2 separate regions of the Homo sapiens genome follow, and region 2 is linked to region 1. The links come from fine-mapping of genetic effects on gene expression. A gene starts in region 1. The other region holds a variant in brackets. All regions are shown on one strand. Distances are between the middles of the regions.

Region 1 (10,745 bases):
TAGTATACAGAATATGATCTCAGCTTTGTTAAACAAAATGCAGAGAAAATAGATTAGAAAGAAGTACTGTCGTCTCTTGGTATACTTAAGGGTAGGGAAGACTGATTCCAGGGGTTCCAGGACCCCTGCATATACCAAAATCCAAGAATACTCAAGTCCCACAGTCAGCCTGCAGAGCCTGCGTATACAAAAAGTCAGCCCTCCGTATGTGTGGGTTTTGCATCCTGGAATACCGCATTTTTGATCCATGTTTTGTTGGAGAAAATCCACATATGAGGGGACCCACATAATACAAACCCATGTTGTTCATGGGCCAAGTGAATACCAAAAAGGTAACATTGATCCTCTGTGAATGGTATATGCATAAGAATATATAAATGTGTATATATATGTATTCCTTCATATATATGTGAAGAACTCACGTGTTCTTCACATGTACACATATATACACATACATGTTCACCTTTTGAACAATGATCACACAGTCTGAAAAAATAGTTTTTTAGTAAATAAAAATTCATTTTCTAGGCTTTATATTTTTATAAATATCAATTAGGTCAATAATTGTCAACAATTATGTCAATTATGTTGATTTGATTTCCATCTAAATAGTATCTTCCTTATATATATCTTTTCCAACACCTTTGGTAAGTGTCTTCCTTACATGCTCTATCTCTACGTTCCAAATGAGTTTAGCCTATCTCCAGGTTTAGCTCTATTTCATCTGTTTTTTATTTATATGCAAATATTCCAAGAGCATGGGTTTGCTAACTCTAAACCAAACAGGGCTTCTCCAACACTCTTCTTAAGTACCAAAGGACAGAACATTCATCTTCATCGTACCTAAAACAGGTCCTTGAGCAAGTAAATGTTTAAAAAAATGCTTCTATCCGATCTTCACCTGGGCACTGCTTTTTCATCTTGTGGACCCTATCTCTTCACTCAGTTGCTAGGAAGCTCCACGTTAATGAGTGCTCTGGCCAACAGACAGAAGCTTATGGCAAGTGTTTTGATACTATTAATAACTTCACTCCTAGTTTCTGCTTAACCCCCCTACTCTTCTCTCTGTTCGATATTCCAAATCTACTTATTATTTAATTTAATTTAATCTTATATTGGAAATATTTATTAAAGTATCTTAAATCCTAATTCTGAAATAAGAAGGAATTTTCTTCTTTTCTTTTACAAGAAGGGGTGATAGTACATACGCTACTGATAACAGAACCAGTTCCTTGAGATTAAAATGAGAAATAAGGATTATAAATTAAACAATCTTTTAGTTGCTACACCTCTTCATAAAGATGAAAATATTGTTTTTCATTTCTACATAGTCCTCAAAAGAGAACTGGAGCCAGATGCAGTGGTATGTGCCTCTAGGCCCAGCTATTTGGGAGGTTGAGGTGGGAAAATTGCTTGAGCCTGTGAGTTTAAGACCAGCCTGGGCAACATAGCAAGACCTTGTCTCAAAAAAAAAAAAAAAAAAGTTCAATTTATATAATATCTTATAAAATCTTCACAACTCTGACATTGGCTTAGTCACTGCAGAACTTAGAAACTTGTATATTATTCTCTGAACAAGTGTCTTTATTTTTCTTCTTCCCATAAACTACCTGCTGCTGGTACCATTCAAAGAGTCTCCAAATGTTAGATTATTGCTTCCTATTTCCTATTGCCCCTATTGGTGGGGGGAGGGGGGCAAAGTAACTGCCCCCCACCAAATATTATTACATATTCTTTTTAGTGAACTGGATATTTTTCTTCCATTTTCTGTATCTAAAAATGAAAACTGATGGTAAAGGGCAAATCTCCAAATCAGGAAGAGATTTTATAAAAACATAGAACTTAAAGGCAAACTGTCCATCTTATCAAAATTAGGCTCAAAAGAAAAATGGTTGTGCATTTTTAATATTAGGGAACTCAAGCAACCAACAATGTTTTAAAGGTTCCATAAGCTTCATGGAATACTAGAGAGTAGCATTCAGTATTTAATAGCAACCTACCGCACAGGCCCAGCAGCAAAAGAGATCTTGCTGCAATAGCACAGTAACCCCTGAGGCAGCATGCTAACAGAGAAGTGAGGGAGTACAGTGTGCAATGGTCTAGCAGACACCAGCTGCAGGCAAAGGCAACAGCAGCACAATCAGTGTTACTACAGTGGAGTGGATGAGAGGGAAGTCAGGAGATGAGTTCAGAGAACTAGTCAGGGACTAGATCACACAGGGCTTTAAAGCCATTGTAAGCCTGTTTTTCTTTTCTTTTTTTTTTCTTTCTTTTTTTTTGTGATTCTGATAAGAAGCCACCAGAAGGTTTTGAAGGGAAATGAAAGTTCTGAGTATGTATGACAAAAATCACTGCTATTTGGAAAAGACTGTAGAGGAGCAAGGGCAGAGGCAGAGACTTCTCAATCATGTAGGTAGGAGAGGACTGTGGCTTAGCTTAGAGAGGGAGAGAGAGGTGGGCAGATCTGGGTAGAGTCAACAGATTTTGTTGGATGCTTGGATGCGGAGTCTGACCTAAAAAGAGAAGTCAAGAGTAAATTCCTAGAATTCCGGCCTACTTGAATGGCAGTAACTGAGGCTGTTTATTGAGATAAGGGAGGGAGCTGAGGGGAAACAGAGGGAGAACTTGGTGAATCTGGCATCAGTAGTTCTATCTGTCCATACTAAATTTAAATGCCTATCAGACTTCCAAGTGGAGATGCTGAGTAAACAGCTGGACATACACATACATCTGGAGCTCAGAAGCGAACTAAAGCTAGGAATAAAATTTTGGAAGTCATCAGCTGATAGATATTATTTATAGCCAAGGAATATGGCTTGGGATACAAATTGTCCTGGGGGAAAGTATGGCTAGAAAAATATGGCCAAGAAATGAACTCTGTGGCATACTAAGATTTAGTGGTGGGGAAGCCTGGAGACACAATGAAGCAGAATGAAATGCAGAATATGGTGACCTGGAAGCCAAGTGAAGAAGAAAGAATATTAGTGAAGAACATTAGTGAAGAAAAAAGAATATTGAGGAGGGAGTGATCAAATGTTACTGAGGGGTCAGGAAAGATGAGAACTGTGCACAGACACTGGATTTCACAAGACAGTCATTGGCAACATCAGGACCATGCAGGGGGTAATGGGGACAAAAAGCCTCAGATGAGAGGGGGTAGGAAGAAACAGGGAAAATGAAAATGGAGACTTAGATTAAATCTTTCAAAGAGGATTTTTGTTTGTTATAAAAAGAAGCAAAGTAGGGGAGCGGGACCTAGAATGGGATGTGTGGTCTAGGGGGGATTAAAGACAGAAGATTTAACAGCAGATATTTGTTAAATGAATACATTTTAAGAATAGCATAAGGAACAAATGACTCAACACAGATGCCCATGATTCAACAGTGTAAACATGGTTTATACTTCAAGTTCCATACGGTAAGGCGTACATGTCACATTTACTTTGCTTCAAATGTAGGTGTCAATATTCTATACCTGCTTATCTATTTTCTGATTTGAATGAGATATAAAGTGGAGTTGCTTAACTCCATTTATAACCATCCTACTACTTCAAAATATTAAAATGTAAGGATTGATGGGCTGATAGGTGCAGCAAACCACCATGGCACACGTTTATCTATGTAACAAACCTGCAAGTCCTGCACATGTATCCCAGAACATAAAATTAAATTAAACAATAAAAAAATAGAAATACAGATTCTGGAAATCAAGCTTACCAAATTAAACCTTCAGAGGTGGGGGGATGCATTTTAAACAAAAGTCCCAAATGCGTCTTACCATCAGGCTTGTTTGAAAAACACTAATCTAAGGAATACTAAACACTTGGAGAAGGACAAGTTCTTCTCCTGTGTAGACGTGCAATGTGGGTTCAGGGGATGACACTTCAACTCTATATAATGGTGTATTTTTACCTCCAGATCATATAGCCTTTCCCACCCTTGCTTTTCAAAATTAAAAGGATAAATTAAAAAATAATAATAAATATGAGAATATTTTAAAATACTTTCTTTAAGAAGTTTACTACCGTGGAAAGCTGGAGAGGTCCTAATACACTGAAAACTAGCTCACAGCTGCCAGTCAAATTATTTTTATCCAAATTAGCTTTGCACAAAAAGCCAAGTAGGAAAACCCATGCCAAAACCTCCAGCACTGGCTCTGTGTGCCTGGCAGGGGCTCATGCAGAGCCTTTAGAGCATTTAAGACTCTGGGCTATTTGCTTATGGTTCTGAGGTGTCTTTTCGAAAATGGGTTTTCTAGTCAAAATGAAACAAAAAGGCAGACAGCTGTGTGGATTTTCCCTTCAGAGTAAGCCAAGTGACGGAAAGGCCTGCCCGCCCCGCTGGGGACAACAGCGCCAGCACCCGCGCCGTCGGGTCGGGTAGGCTGGGGAGGTAGCGCAGGCGGCCTGGCCCCCAGACCACCCCGCGCCCCTGGCGGCCTGGCCCCAGCCCACCCCGCGCCCCCGGCGGCGGCCCCCGCCCTAGCGCCCGGTACTTGCCTGCAGGCGAGCGCCACCACAGTCAGCCCGCGGCTTTTCTGTCTTCCTTTCTGGCCCAGCGAGAGCGCCCAGGGGGTGGGCGTCTTGCCCCGGGCGTCGAGAGTTTGGGGCCGTCCCGTACGCGGCGCGCCGCAACCCAGTCCCCGCGACCACAGCAGCCTGCTCCCCACCGCGCTTGCAGAGCCCGGACGCGCGTGAGTCGGGGGCCCGCAGAGGCCTCACCCTTGGAGGTCGCCGCTTGTCAGGCCTGACTGCTGTTGGCGCCCACCCCGCCGCCCCCGAGGGGCCGCTCGAGGCCGGACTGCTGCTTTGCCGTGGCAGGCCCCACCCGGGACGTGGCGCTGCGGGCCGGGGCGGTCCAGCTGTGAGTCAGGGGTTAATGTGGCGGGATAACTCTCTGCAGAGGGAAGGAGCTCGCAAAGAAGGGTGGAGGAGGGGAAACCGCAATGGGGAACTGTCACCGAGGCTAGTGGACTCTCCCTGCGCTTTTTTTTTTTTTTTTTTTTTTGGCATGTACCCCAAAAGCCAGAGGTCGAGGCCCAGAAAAATCTGGAAAGGAATTCCACCGTGTTTGCTCCTTACAGACCAGACAAACCGTAGATCTTTCAGAGGTACAGCGACTCTCCTGGTTCCCTAAGATAGTCTCGACTTTTCCTTTCCCTTTGCGGCCCTCTCACTTGACTACTGCAGCCAACCATACCCCTGATTAGGGGGTGCAGCACATCAGCCTCTGCCCCCAAAAACTACCCTGCGAAAGATCCTTTTTCTCAGGTTCGTTCTCCACAACCGAACAGATTGGAACTCCACTGAATAAGAGAGAACAAAAAAGCAATTAGTTAAATGAAGCGTAAAGAAGCCTTATAAAGCCCCATTGCTGCCTCAGGCACCCAATCTAGTCATAACCTAAGAGGTCCAGTTCAGAAATCTCCCCTCCCCTTTTAATTCTCAGGCAATCCCTACTCCCTGCCAAAGGAGAACCCAGTTACTGAACATCGGATGAGACCATGGATAGTAAATTGGGAGTGAAGGTCCATACCTGGGTCTCAGAAGCACAGTACAGGTAAAGCTAAGAGTTATTTCCTCCTTCTCTTTCCCCATCCAACAACAGGATGCCTTACTGAAGGTAGGCACTTCAGGTAGTAATTACTTAGTGAAATGCCGCCAATGTAGTCAGAAATACCGTATTATGTACCGTGTCAACACAATTCATTATTCACGGAGTTGATTCTCCAACCACTGCACCTCCCAACAATTCTACCTGAACTCTTTGGGTAAGCAGTGGCCTCCTAAATCCAACTGATACTTTTGTTGCCCTCATTTTTCCTGGGAGTCTCTTTGGCGATTGACAAAGTCGACCATTGTTTCCCAACACTCTGTTTCCTTGATGTTGACAACCCCACTTTGCCTTTATGCTCATCCTGCTTGTTAAAATTCTTTCAGGCCTGTTGGGAGGCCGAGGCGGGTGAATCACGAGGTCAGGAGATCGAGACCATCCTGGCTAACACGGTGAAACCCCGTCTCTACTAAAAAATACAAAAAATTAGCCGGGAGTGGTGGCAGCTGCCTGTAGTCCCAGCTACTTGGGAGGGTGAGGCAGGAGAATGGCTTGAACCCGGGAGGCGGAGCTTGCAGTGAGCCGAGATCGCGCCACTGCACTCCAGCCTGGGCCACAGAGTGAGACTCCGTCTCAAAAAAAAAAAAAAAAAAAAAAAATTCTTCTTTCAGTTTCCTCTGCCTGTTCCTCTTTCTCTGGCAACCCTTCAAAATCAGAGCTTTTCACATTTTCCCACTGAAATACCACCAATGACAGATTCCATAAACACGTACTTCCCTATTCATCACTTAGGTTGCATACATAAAAGAGCCTGAAGTCACTAGTGTCATGGGCAAATTTACTTGAACTGTTCCATCTTCTTGTAAATTGCTCCAAATTTTGCATTGTTCTTCATAATACAGTCACATGTACTAAAAAAAATCTTAAATTGGTTACAAGTTTAATTGCTTAACATTTTCTCTCCAAATGTTCAAGAAAATGCATCAATCACTTACGCCACATATGTTTAGAATATATTCTATGTGCTAGACATTAGGGATATTGTGCGAACAGGAGACACAGTCCTAGTTCTCATGGAGATTTTATAGTCTAATCTGGGAGACAGACAGATATGTAAAGAAGTGAGACAATTTCAGATCCGTGCATTGCTAATGGGGACAGCGAATCTTCCTAGTGGGCAATTTCTAGCTACATACCTGGTTATTCACATTCAAGAAAGGAGGGGACGACATGACAAACTGATAAATATACTGACTTACAGGCAGTGTCTAATGGATTGTCCAGCTTTTAGGTTCTTGGAAAGAACAAAATGGAAAATTTGTAAAAGATCTGTCCGTGAGACTTACAGATAACCCTCTTGGAGTGGTGAGGGCATGTGAAGATATTCATATCCCCCATAAGTGCCTAACAGGATGCATCAGGTGGAGAAGATTTTCAATAATAAGCGGAACAAGATGAATTGTCTGGTAGATGTCAGTCTTTTTCTCCAGCCAACCCAGGGCTTGGTTAATGGGCCCATGTACCAAGTGGCTATCAAAGCAGTGACAGAGGTTCAATAGTATGGTCTTCTCCTTACCTACATTATTTGGCTACTATCATTGCCGAATGCCCAACCTGGCAACAACGTGGAGTGTGACTACATTTCCAAGGCTGGGTTCCTAATATGGCATTACTGTCAATGAGACTTGCTGGCAACCCGGTAACATGATGGTTACATTGGGCAATTTCCATAAGAAATAGGTAGCACTTTGTCTTCACAAAGATAATTCACATTCAAGGTATAAATCTGCATTCTCTGCCTGCAGTGTTTCCACTGGCACTAATATTCTTGACATTTCTGAAGGTTTTATCCATTGCATAGGAATCCCAAAAACATTTCTTCCAACCAGGTACACAGTTTATGGCAATGGAAGTGAATTCAATGGTTTTAACACATGCTTATCTCCTAAAGTAACTAGCTTGATAGAACAGCTGAGTGGCAAAATGAGAGCTCGGTTACAGAGATATCTGGGAGGCAACATCATGAAAAGGTAGGGTGGTGTCCTATAGAATGTGGTACATTAATTTAATAAGCAGTCAATATATGGAGCTGTCTCCCCACTATCAGGATGCACAGGTCTCAGAGCCAAAGGGTAGAAGGAGTGTTTCTGTTCAATAGTATACCTAAGAATCTACGTGAATAATTTTTGCTTCCCATTCCCAAAATGTTGGGCTTGGTGGGTTTAGAAATTCTAGAGTCCAAGAGTAGAACACTTCCTTCAGGAAAAATAATCATGTTTTGATGATTTAGGAGCCGAGACTGGCCCTGGCCTTTTGAGGTTCCTCATGCCATTAAAGTAACAGAAAAGCAGCTCAATGGACTGGCCAGGGTAGCTAATTCCAGTTATCAGAGGAAAACTGTGTTTCTGTTTTACAATGGAAACAAGAAGGCTATATAGGCTATATATGGAAACGAGGAAATTCACTGGAATGCCTCTTAGTGCTAACAGTCCTAGTCAGTGGAAAACTGCAGCAACCCAGTAAAGACAGGCCTATCAACGGCTCAATTCTGTAGAAATGAAGGTTTAGGTCACTTCATTAGACAAAGAATCCCATCTAGTCAAAATCCTGGAGGAAGGTAAGAAGAAGGATTACTAAGCTTGATTATGGTACTTTATTCCCCCAGAAATAAAACCAAAAGATGGTTTACTAGGACGTTCAAAATCAATAAACTTCTAGCCAGATAAGTCAAGAAAAAAGAGAGCAGATGCAAATTACCAATATTAGAAATGAGAGAGGGACATGACATTCCAGTTATTAAAAGGTTACTAAGGAAAGATTATGAACAACTTTATGCCAGCAAATTCAACAATTTATATGAAATGGAAAAAATCCTTAAAAGCCAAACAGTCAAGATGAAACAGATTATTTTAAAAGCCCTAAATCTATCAAAGAAATTAAGGTGTAGTGAAAAATGTTCCGAAAAAGAAAACTTCATGTCCAGGTGACTTCAATGGTGAACTCTACCAAAACATTTAAGGAAGAAATGATACCAATCCTACACATACTCTTCAAAAAAATTCAAAAGGAGGGAATACTTCTGAAATCATTCTATTAAGCCAGCATTAGTATCATACTAATCAGACAAAAGACATTACAAAAACAGAAAACTAAAGACCAACATCGCTCATGGATATAGATGTAAGATTCTAAACAAAATTTGAACAAATCAATGATGGTTGAGAATTTTCCAGAACTGATGTATCAACCCACAGATCTAAGATGCCAAACAAAGCCTAAGTGGGAAAATACAATAAAATCCTCACGTATATACAACACAATGAAACTCAAAAAAAAAAAATTATAATTACAAAGAGAAAATCGTGAAAGCAGCCAGAGGAAAAAAAAATGGATTAGTCTAAATGGAGCAAAAGACTGACAGGTGACTTCTTCCCAGTAACAGTGGAAGTCAGAATACAAGGGAAAGTTATCTTTACCTTTCCAGATAACCATCCATTTCAAGGGAGAAAAAAAAAGTCCTTCAAAAAGAAGGCAAAATAACGACATTTCAAAAAACAAGAGCAAAGTAAATGTGCCACCAGGTGACCTGCACTAAAGTAAATTCTAAACATATACTCAGGCAAAAGAAAAATTACTCCAGATGGAAGCTCAAAGACACAGCAAGGAATGGAGAGTAAGAAAGGTGGCAAATTTGTGGGTAAATCTAAGTCAATATTAACTATATAAAACAACAGTAATAACTTACATTTAAAGAGATACAACATATGTGACAACCACATATATAAGCTGGGAGGAAAGTAAATGGGATTAAAGTGTTCTAAGGCTACTGCACTGCGCAGAAGTCTGGGCGAGTTTAGGCGTTGATAAGTCAGAGATGCATAATGAAATTTCTAGAACAACCATGAACAGAAATATATACAACATCCCATCTGATAGGTAGAAGAAAAAAAGGAGTAACAAAAACAAAACTATCAAAAAAAAAGTAGAAAAAAAGGAACATAGAACAGATAGGACACATACTAATAGTAACAACAATATGATATAAACGAGACACCTCTAAAAACTAAATATACACAAAGACTGAAAGTAAAACTGTGGAAAATGATATACGACACAAGTGCTAGCCAAACGAAAGCTGGTATAGCTACATTAATATCAAATAAAATTAATTTTAAGGCAAAATTTATTAGTGGAAATAAAGATAATTTTGTAATGATAAAGCTTCTTTCAATTAACCTGGAAAATATAACAATTATACATTTGTATCCCAATACAAAATAGAAAAAGAGAGAAATTGAAAGAATCACACAAACACATCTAAAATCATGCTAGCTACATTTTAACACAATTCTCTTAGTAATCAAGAGATATATACCAAAAACAAAAAAATCATCACTAAGGATACTGAAGACTTGAAAATTAATGAACATGACTAAAATGATTAATGAACATAAATAACTGTAGAACTCTTTTCAAGCATCCTAAAATTTATAAAAACCAGCCACTTATTATGTCATAAAGCAACTGTTAACACATTTCAAAGAATTTAAATCATATAGAGAATATATCATCTGATCACAATTCAATTATGTTAAAAATCAACAATAAAGGAAAACTTAAATATTCATGTTTGGAAATTATAGTTCCAAATAGTATCTATGGATCAAAGTAGTAATGATAATGAAATAAAAAACTTTGCAGTTAGTGAATAACTAAAATGCTAGATATTGAGACTTGTAGAATGGAGTTAGTAGTAGGCAGAATTCTAAGATGGTTCCTGAAATCCTTTCCAAGCCCCATATCCATACCTTTGTGTGGACAACGCCTGTTACATTTAGTAAGAGAATATGGCAAAAGTGAAAGGATTTTGCAGATGCAATTAAGGTGCCTATTTAGTTGACTCTGACTTAATCAAAAGGGAGACTATCCCAGGTGACTCTGACCTAACCAAGTGAACTCTTTCTGGCCTTCTCTGAAACAGATTCTAGTCAGAAGTTCTGCTGACCTTAAAAAGGCATGTCACGTTACACTGCTTATATAAAAGAGCAGCCCTAAGTAGCTGAGGACCTCAGTTCTACAGCTTCAAGGAACTAAGTTTTATCAACAATCTGATTAATTTAGAAGAGAACTGTGAGCTCCAGATGACAATGCAGTTCAGCTGACTTCACTGCAGCCTTGTGAGACCCTAAACA
Region 2 (10,745 bases), 25 kb before region 1:
AGACACTGACATCCTCCTCTCTCCCTAGACACAGACAGGGCTTACTAAGAGAGCATCATTTCCATTTCCAAAGGTCATGGAGTTTGTGACAAAATAGTGCTTAGTGATGCTTGTTCAAAAGCTGAAGTGAAGAAAGTACAACAAAAGAAGGGAAGCATTTTAGAATGGGCAGAGACCTTAGTTTTTAGAGCTCAGAAAAAAATCACACAGCTAGAAAATGTTAGAAATCAGCTACTGCAATACTTTGAGTCTTCTGGAGGAAAGTGAAGATTAGAAAAGTTAGCTCCACAGCAGCACAGTGGAATTAGGACGCATAGTTCCTGAGACTCTCTGTCATGAGTTGTGCATACTAGGCAAAGAAGACTAGAATTATGGCAACCTCACCATGAACTTGTTATGGTTTTCTCTTTGTACTACTGGCCTCTCCTAATTTCTCCACCATGAGAAAAGCAGACAGGTACATTGAGAAGCACAATTATGAAGCCTAAGACCCACAAGGCTTTGGAGCCAGACCACTGAATATTTCAATGACTCCATCCTCTACCAGCCTGTGATCTTGGGTATATTACATTTCCAGCATCTGTTTCTTGGCCCAGTATTGGACACTGTATGACTAACCTTGTAGGAATCTGGGGAACACTGGAGATAATGTAAGTTAAGTGCCAAACACAGTAGGTGATAAAAAATGAAACGTATTATTACAAGCATATATTTCTCTACCCATTGACAGTCTTCATCTTTTTTTAGTTCCTCAAATCATTGCACGTGTAGGAAACATCTACAGCACTTAACATGACTACAAGTGAATGCTAATTTAAAAAATAATTATGAACTTTTTCAAACATACAGGAGAGCATGGAAAATAATATACCATCACCAATGTAAGTACCCATTAAAAATACAGAGCTGTCTTGTACGTTTTAAAACTTTATATAAATGTTATCAAATTATCCATATTATTCTATAATTTACTTCTCCCACATATTACATTTTAGAAATTTACCCATATTCACATATGTAGGTTTCCTAGTTATTTTTAATGCCCTATAGTATTGATTTCATGAACCTGCCATAATGTATTCCTGCATCCTCCTACTGATGGACATTTAGATTGTTTCCCATTATTTACCTATTACAAAGAATGCTGCATAGGCATCCTTCTCACTCGTGCTTCTTTGGGTACCTGTGAGAGAGTTTCTTTGGGATACAAATCCAGAGGTAGAATTGCTAGATTCATAAGATATGCCCATCTTCAACATTACTAGTCATTGCTAAATCATGTTTCCAAATCACTGTAGCATTTTATTGTCATCTTTGCTCGAGAGTATTTTTTAGGTTCTTTATTGAGATATATTTTACATACCATAAAATTTACCCATTTCAAGTATACAACTCAACAGTTTTTAGTATATGTGCAGAGTTGTGCAACCAGCACTGCAATCTAATTTTAGAACATTTTAATGTGATAGCATTATTTATAAATACACATAAAATATACAGAAATCTGTAAAGCTTGTTATGTGTCCTGTCCAATATATACATGGAAAACCTCCGGAAGGAGCTAGTTTGTAGAGGTCCCCTACAAATAATAGAAAAAAACAATTTTCTTGATTTAAACCTGTAGTTTGAGTAGGTAGCTGAAAGCAACATTTCTAATTAGATTTGGAAACTGCTTAAATGCAGGTTCCTGTTACTTGCTAATAAAAGCATTTCTAATTATTCACCTCAGAGTGAAAATGACTCAGAACTCACTCTATCTGAAGAGAAATAGAAGTGTGTTAAACTAACTAAAGAAGTGATTTCCCCAGAACAATTCTTGCTCATGACAGAAAGGAAGGCAACTGTGAAGGAGTATAGATGTTGGAGTAAACAGTTGTGAGAGCAGGTTCATTGGCAAAGGAGAAGAGAGAAGAGCAATTGTCTTTCTTTTTTTCCACAAGTTAATTCGTTGAGCTTTTTTTTTTTTTTTTTTTTGAGACAGAGTCTCACTGTATCGCCTAGGCTGGAGTGCAGTGGCCAGATCTAGGCTCACTGCGACCCCTGCTGCCCAGGTTCAAGCAATTCTCCTGCCTCAGTCTCCTGAGTAGCTGGGATTACAAGCACCTGCCACCACGCCTGACTAATTTTTGTATTTTCAGTAGAGATGGGGTTTCACCGTCTTGGCCAGGCTGGTCTTGAACTACTGACCTCGTGATCCACCCACCTTGGCCTCCCAAAGTGCTGGGATTACAGGCATGAGCCACCACACCCAGCCTCATTGAGCTTTTAATCAAATAATTTTCATGCTCTGAGTTATTAATTAATGGCACTTTCAAGTATTACTTACCTCAATCCAAACTTAATATGTTAATTGACAAGAGTATTGCCACATATGACATATATATATATATATATATATATATATATATATATATATATATATATATATATAAGAAAGTTGTCCTTATCCAGCCGTTAAGTGTTCAAAATCTAATAAATTTTTCTACTTGGAATCTCATAAGAAACATCAGGTCCATGGACAACAACATCAGTTCTCTGGTTCATTCCTTCTGGTCATTGGCTTAAGGACATCAACTTCCAGATGCTGTGGTTTCATTTCATCAAGTGCCTGACAGCTTTCTGAAATTTCCTCCTTGCCCTTCAGACCATCCACAGGTGTGGAGGGTACGTCACTTTCTGTGACAGCTTAGCAGATGACCTAAGACCAGGCGGTGTAAGACTGAGAAGAGGAGGAAAGTCACAGAGGCAGCGCAGATTGCTCAGGGCAAACACACGGAATCCCACCTTACCAGCAATGCAGCCATGGCAACAGCTTCTCACTAGCCCTGGGGCCAGCCCCACCACACTCATGGATCAATGGACTTTCTCTACAGTTGGGAATAGCCTGACTCCACAGCATGGCATGTGGTTTCTTTACCTGCACTGAGGTTTTTTACCTGCAAAATGTACAGATAAAGGACCTGAAATCCTTTGCCTGCACTGAAATGATTCTCCTGAATTAGATACTAATATTGAGCCACTCTACACCCTTTGAATACTTGGGCCCCAACTCAGATTTCCTTTGCAACAAGACTGTGAAAACCACTTTGATCTCTTTTTTGCAGGGTCCTTTGCTGGGCAGACAGATGACTCAGTGAAATCTAGTCTATTTATTCGTTACTGGAGAGGAAGTGATTAAGCTTTCCAGGCTGGAACAACATCCACCATCAGGAACTGGGATTGGGCCTTAGGAATGAGCTGTTGCAAATGAGAGGGCCAAGGGAAGTTATTTCTGTTACTAGTGGTGTTACCTTCTATGCAGTGAAGTGGTTTTGACAACCAATGCATTAGGATCTGCAAAATTGAAGGATGAGGGACTGAAGCGGAAAACATCCCTGACTTGTGCTGGAAAGCGTTAACCCCAGCAAACAGCTTGTTGAATTCAAGGCAGAACTTAAGTTAGTCAGGAAAGAAAGGAGCAGAGTAGACTAGTGATACTCTTACTCCCTTCTCCACCCAACCCAAGGGGAATAGTATAACTAAACTCATACAGCCTATTCCCAAATGAGGCAAAATTATCTGGGAGTTGCTAAGCCCCAGAAAAGAGCTAAATTAAACGGATTACACCCTCTGCCCTCCATAATCAAATGAACACAAAGTTGATCCACCATTTTTAAGTGTAAGGAGCAACAAAACTCCACTGAAGGCATCCAGGTCTGAGCCATTCTTCCTCCTAACTGACTTCAAAGCTGGCACTCCTAGACTCCATTTTCCTGCTTTTCTAGTTTATGGCTCAACTTTCTACTTGTTAGAATCATGGCACCATGCTCTTGCATCCTTCATGCCACCAGCTTCCTCCGCACTCATACTCATCATTAACAGCTCACACATCTCTTGCTGATCAAGGGGGCTCCTCTGCTTTTCAGTGCCTGACTGGGGGCTGTACTGCACATGGGAACAAGGCCTGGCATCTTCCTTTGTCTTTGTTTAAAATCTATTCCCTACAAGTTGCGAGGTTTCCAAGGATAGGATTGTGGGTATGTAAAAATGCATATGTGTCCTGCCCGCCAACCCATGCTGCATATTGAATGTGTGTAGGCAACAAAAAATAGTTCTAGTAGCATAGATATGGTAGCTATATGTGAGGCACTAGCTCATTAAATCCTCAAAATGACCTTTCAGGGAGGTATTTATGATCTTTATTTTTAGATGAGGACATTAAAACTCAAAAAAATTAAGTGTCTTTTTAAGAACATCACTTACAGAGGACAGAGGTGGAATTCAAATCCAGGTAGTCTGACTCAGAAACGGTGTTGGAAGATGTTTGGATGCAGGGAGGCTAGGAGGTGTCCACTCAGGGTAGGGGTAGGGAGAATTTTGAAATAATGGAACCAGCTGGGAGTCAGATGGCTCTTTATCATTACTGGGTATCAACAATTTTCAATAATGCAGTGATGAATTATTTTTTCCATATGGGTGGACCACTCCTATCATCTTATTAGGCTGGACACTGTCATGTCTGTATACAGTGTCGGACACTGGAGCAGCCAGGCTACACCTTGGAAGGGAGCTCAACCGAAACACTGAGAATGGAAGAGCAAAAAGATGGAAAGAACCTGGGTTTGTTTTTTTACCTTTTCTTTTTTTTTTTAATTACAAGTTGAGCATCTCTAATATGAAAATCCAAAATCCAAAACACTTCTGGTCCCAAGCATTTTGGATAAGGGATATTCAACTTGTATTGTGGTAAAATATATATAACATAAAATCTATCATTTTAGCCATATTTAAGTGTACAATTCAGTGGTATTAAGTACATTTCGCAATGTTGTGTGTCATCACCATTACCCATTTCCAGAACGTTTTCAACAACCCCAAACAGAAACTCTGTACCCATTAAACAATAGCTCCATATTCCTCCCTGCCCTCAGCCCCTGGTAACCTCTATTCTTTCTGTCTCTGTGAATTTACCTTATATAAGTGGAATCCTATAATATTTGTCCTTTTGTATCTGGCTTATTTTACTTAGCATAATGTTTTCAAGGTTCACCCATGTTATGGTATGTATCAGAATTTCATTCCTTTTTAGAACTGAATAATATTTCAGTATATGACTGGGATTTTAATGACACATTTGAGCCCCTGTACCTTGGCGGACCTCTTGTTAAGTCGGATAATATTTTTTTCTTATGGTTTAGGCCACGTGGCGTGGGGTTTTCCTAACTGATACATGAGGCTCAACTCGGGTTCTCCCCTGTAAAGCTCCAGGGTGGGCAATAAGGCCCACAGAGTACTCAAAATGAAAGCTCCCCAGCATAGTGCAAAATTTCCCATATTTCCTGATATGTGTATGTACCTAGATATGTACATGTGTGTATGGGTGTGTGCACACGCACATATGTACACAACAAACATGACAAAGCCCACACCTTTACCTGTTTTCATCCTCAGTTTAGCTATTTTGTTACAATTGATAATTTCAACATATATAATAATTCAGCACTTAACATTTTTTTTTTTTTTTTTTTTTGAGACGGAGTCTCGCTCTGTCGCCCAGGCTGGAGTGCAGTGGCGGGATCTCGGCTCACTGCAAGCTCCGCCTCCCGGGTTCACGCCATTCTCCTGCCTCAGCCTCCCAAGTAGCTGGGACTACAGGCGCCCGCCACTACGCCCGGCTAATTTTTGTATTTTTAGTAGAGACGGGGTTTCACCGTTTTTAGCCGGGATGGTCTCGATCTCCTGACCTCGTGATCCGCCCGCCTCGGCCTCCCAAAGTGCTGGGATTACAGGCGTGAGCCACCGCGCCCGGCCAACATTTTTCTTTATCATAAAAAAAATATGGAACTCCAAATTGGGTGAGACATTGTGTCTGGTGCTCTATGAAGTACAAATCGATGCTTCATTTCAAAACACTCTTCCACAATCTTCATTGGAGTTGAAAATAAACAAGTTTAGTCAAGAGTAAAGAATAAAAACATTTATTTTAAAAATACCATTTAGCATCAATTGCCCCAAGTTTGGCAGGCATGAAGAGTGGGCAGTTCA[T/G]GTTTTATTAGTATATAAAATTGGCTTTACAGGAAGCATTATGGCAAAAAAATGAATACTTATTATGAAAACTGAAAAAGAGAAGTGAGTAGTAAGCTACTATCAGAACGTTAAGGCTAAGAAAATGTCACTATGCAATGAAAACCATCTCCTCCTCTAATAAGTACTAACAGAATAGGAGGCTTGACTTACTTGCATGCTCCTCATAGAACGTTTTGGTTCATGGCTATGAAGAGGTAACTGCAAAAAGATGTGTGCAGATCCCGGTACTGGTAGGGGATATACAAGTGGGGAATAAGAAAAAAGAAATTAAGCAAAATGTCTTTACTCAAGGATCTCTATAAAAATTTATTTTTAAGAAAGCCTGAGTAAGCATGTATATTTTTTTCCTGTGACTTTAAGTGTAATGACAGCATTAAAAATAAATTATGCTGTCAATATACAAAAAATATCTTTTCATTATAAGCATATATAAAGCCTTCTGCAACTATTACATATCACTTTATCGAATCCAAACTTTTTTGCTTGTTCCCTTTTGTGGTCCCTAGTTTTTCACATCCTCATAGAGGACAAAAGCCTTTAGAGATCCATCAATTCAACCCTTTCATTTCACAGATAAAGGAGGGTAAATAGTTTGCCCACAGTTACATTCATCCTCAGTGGCAGAAATTGGACTAGAACCAAGTCTCATGATCCCGAAGAGGGCTTTTCTCATTACATGACATGACCCATTCTCCACCCCATCCCTGATCTCAAGTGGACGATGCTCCCTCAATCTCAGATGGGCAGAAGGGCTGTGGAGGAAAGAAACAATCCTGTTTGGGGCCTCTCTGGCTTGTTAGGAGCATGGGGCTCTAGAATAGGAGGTAATAAAATACATCTCCTTCTATCCAAAGTCTTTATAAATAACCTATCACACACACACATGCACACAGTCAGGCTACTTTGAAGACCTAAATGAGAAATACTTCCTGAGAAGAGAATTGTGTGTGACGGAAACTTTTAAAGCTTCCATAAGAGAGGTTTTTGATTTAAAAAGTGAATATCTGGCCACTCACACAGTTATACGCCTTTTAGAAGCTCTGCAAATAAAGCCATAGTTACAAATGATGACTAATATGAAGAGATTTAAGCCCCAGGGGACGTCTGAACACCACTCCACGAAGTCCCTAACTACCACACTATCAAATGGGCTGTGAATCGGTGGTGGGAAATGCCTCCAAATATGCAGATTTCAGCAGAAAATACATTTGACTGGGTTCTTTTAAAAAGTTCCACCATTCTCACATCTATTTCTGATTTTATATGCATCAACGCTTAACATGCTAAATGTTCTATTCTGGCAATTCATATTTCTGGGTGATAGTACCCGAATGCTTATTGCAACATCCATGAGAGGTGCCTCAGGAGGAAGTGTGATCAGATCTCCTGGGGCCATTTTTTTTCTGTGTCCTTTGAGATCAAAATTCAGAGAATAAAAGTGTTGTCACATTTTTAAAAATGTCTGTCATACAAGTTTTTGTTCAAGGTTCAATACAAGGAATATGGATTGAGAATTCCTTTTTCATATCCATGAACTAGGAAAATTGTGAAAGAAAAGTCCTTGAAACTCTGACAATGTCAAGTTTACTGAAACATCAAAAAGTACCACAATTTTATAGGCTGTCCTGCAGAAATTTATCTTTCTTGTGCTCCATAGGTTTCTTTAAGGTGAAGACTCTCTTTTATTTAAACATTTCCTAGAAACTGCTTTCTCAAGTGAAGATTAATCATTTGGTTTACAAAACAAGAGCCAGCCACATGTTATATGTTTCATCTCAGGCAATAAATTGTCTTTGTACCATATTTCTTGTCTCTTTCCATATAGTTTGTTGTGTCTTATACACAGACTCCTGAAAAATTCTTTCTACTTGTGTAGGAAATCCACGACTTTCTTCCTCTAAGGCATTGATGGTTTGGAGGGCAAAGGGAGTCCTTTCTCGGGGAAGGGGATTGTTCAGGGGCCGCATGGGTATAACAGAGTTGTATTTATGCTGCCTGTTAACGGAGTTCATTAGGGACGTATAGAACTGGAAATTACACCAAGTATCTCTTAAAAAGTTTTCAGTCAGTAATAAGATTGTCCATGCAGACCCATTTACAGCATCATCTAAATTCTGTAAATGCTGTCTGCCACATGGCATCTCAGCAAAGATTATTCCGGGTTTGATACCAAAGTCATCTTGTAGCAGATTCTGGACTCTGAGGGCTTCATCTGTGTCATCTTCTGCATGCAATATCACAAATTTGAGGAACACCTCTTCTTCAGCTTCTTCTTCAAACATCTCTTCCACGCTCTGAGCTCCCTCCTGCTTTCCTGTTGGCCCCTCTGTTGTATTGCTGTGCTCAGCAACATTACACAAGGATAGATCTTCAGACTTCTTGGAATCTGACTCATGATATCCTGGACTTGTATCCACACTGTGCCTTTTACCCCAAGAGAGAGAAAGAGGGCAGGAATTTATTTTAGACTTCCCGATACCCATTATAAATATCCAAGGCAGAAGAGGAAAACTTTATGTATTTCTCAGCATTTCTTTTCAATCTAAAAGAAGTAACAAAACAGAAGAATATTATAAATTTAATCAAAACATTAAAAATGGAAACTTTCATTCAAACTGAAAAGCTCAAAAAGATTATAATAGACAGATCCAAATACATAAACGACAAACAGATAATTGGGAAGCTAAACTACTAATCTTTTGTGAGCTTTACAAGGGCTATCACAGGCAGCGAAGGGAACATTAAATAAAGGGTCCAGTTTAATATAATAGGAGACATTCGGAAAATGTAAATGGTGTTATATTAGCACTACAAACCTCCAGATTGAAATAAATTACGTTGGTATTTTTGTGATAGGTACCATACCGCTTTATCTTTTCATGCAGTTTAAATCTAATTTCTCCATTATCAAATTACCATGTAGACTAGAAACAGGAAAATATAAAGAAACTGAATATTCAATTAAGCATAAATATATTTCTGTATCAAGCACAAACAAAATAGAACACAAATATCCTAACAATGACTGGCAGCATCTCTACTGACAGCATAAACAGAAGATCTGAAATGTCAAGTGAAATGATGTCCAGGATTTACTGGTTCGGAGCTTTTTTTTGTTTGTCTGGAGTCAGGCATTGTGGTGATGGTGAATCTAATGGAGAATAAATTATAATAAGAGTGTGTGAAAAGTAAGAAATATCTTTTTCCAACGAATCCTGTAACTACTGAAGAAAATATATTTATTCACCTAAGGAAAAATTAACATCTCAGTTTGGAAATGAACTCTAGAAACAAAGACTTGAGACTTTCTCCAGTGAAATCAACAAAGAATGATTATAGTCTAGATTCATTCTTGTTTTTGTTGTTATTTATTTATTCATTTATTTATTTATTTATTTTTTGAGACAAGGTCTGGCTCTGTTGCCCAGGATGGAGTGCAGTGGTGTGATCTCAACTCACTGCAATCTCTGCCTCTCAGGCTCAAGCCATACTCCCACCTCAGCTTCTGGAGTAGCTGGGACTACAGGTACATGCCACACACCTGGCTAATTTTTTTTTTTTTTGGTTTTTTTTTTTTTTTGGTAGAGATGGGGTTTCATATGTTGCCCAGGCTGGTCTCGAACTCCTGGGCTCAAGCAATCCTCCCGCCTCAGCCTCTCAAAGCTCTGGGATTACAGGTATGAGCTACCACGTCTGGCCTAGACTCATTCTTTTATTTAAAAAAATTCTAAATTCAGAGTGGAAGAACTAGATCAACTGTGAAAGAAAAGTATACCATGTGAATCTAATTTAAATAAGTCTTCAGAAAACATTGGCAATATTCCTAATAAAATCCCCCAGACAGGCAGTTTCAAGGGGAATTCTTTTATTAAAAGACAGAACATTTAGAATATATAAATACAGGTTTCATACTTTCAAATGTGAGCCACAGACTATATTCCAGAGCATTTCTACTTGTTCTTTATGGGCAAAGGCCATACCTCAAGAAGAAATTATAACATTCATAACAACATAAGTAACATGGCTACATATGCCTACATAATTCAGGTTTAGAAGAAACTGTTCAACAAAAGTGGTGAAAACTGTCATGGGAACAAAAACCAAGGAAAAAAACAGAGAATTTCATTCAATGTATGTGAGTAAAAATGTTTGCAGCTGCCTCTGACTAGTGAGGAAACTGCTGACCACTCCGTCATTCACTCTGTCTGTACTTTAGGTTCTCGCTCCACGGTATATTGTGCTAGTTACCAAGAGGTATTCTAAGGCATAATAACTCTAAAATGTGACATATATCCATCCAAAATAATAAAACCAAATTAATTTGGACTCTCTTCATTGATTAGGATTCACTGCTGACTTTTGTTACTGCATCGTAAAAAAAAAGGGTTTTGCTATGCAAAGTTGCAGAAAGAAGTTTCCCCTGAATGAGAAAACAATAGTTAAACCATCCAGAGGCATCTATTTACTGTCAATTAAAATGATCTACACTTATCACTGAATTCAACACCATTATCTTAGTCACTAGCCGGTAAGACAAGTGCTTTGAAGGAATATAACAGCTATTTATAAAGAATATGAAAAACTTCTAGGGTAAGATAGTGTGTCAAGGCAGATCACAAAATCTTTTAAAATAAAAACAAAGAATTACAACTTCGACTTATTTTTCTTAAATACCAGTT

Evidence for each region.
Region 2: its variant is fine-mapped to the expression of TICAM2 in whole blood (TOPMed, PIP above 0.99). The same link has a PIP of 0.9 or more in blood mononuclear cells and lung.

The regions. Positions count from the first base shown.
Region 1 is chr5:115,597,598-115,608,342 of GRCh38, forward strand. TICAM2 (TIR domain containing adaptor molecule 2) reads right to left here and starts at 4,882. Exons shown (of 2, transcript NM_021649.7): 1 at 4,500-4,882. All of the region lies in intron 3 of TMED7-TICAM2 (TMED7-TICAM2 readthrough), which reads right to left. TICAM2-AS1 (TICAM2 antisense RNA 1) reads left to right here and starts at 4,558. Exons shown (of 3, transcript NR_109875.1): 1 at 4,558-4,863; 2 at 5,449-5,559. RefSeq lists enhancers at 4,204-4,283, 4,232-4,754 and a silencer at 4,374-4,873.
Region 2 is chr5:115,572,708-115,583,452 of GRCh38, forward strand. TMED7-TICAM2 (TMED7-TICAM2 readthrough) reads right to left here. Exons shown (of 4, transcript NM_001164469.4): 4 at 5,789-8,608. The coding sequence ends at 8,608. It overlaps TICAM2 (TIR domain containing adaptor molecule 2), which reads right to left. Exons shown (of 2, transcript NM_021649.7): 2 at 5,789-8,608. The coding sequence starts at 8,549. The coding sequence ends at 7,842. Among named protein-coding and RNA genes, the nearest start is that of TICAM2-AS1, 24 kb to the right of the region's middle. RefSeq lists enhancers at 2,599-2,648, 2,679-2,748. The variant T/G (reference allele first, on the strand shown) is at 6,025.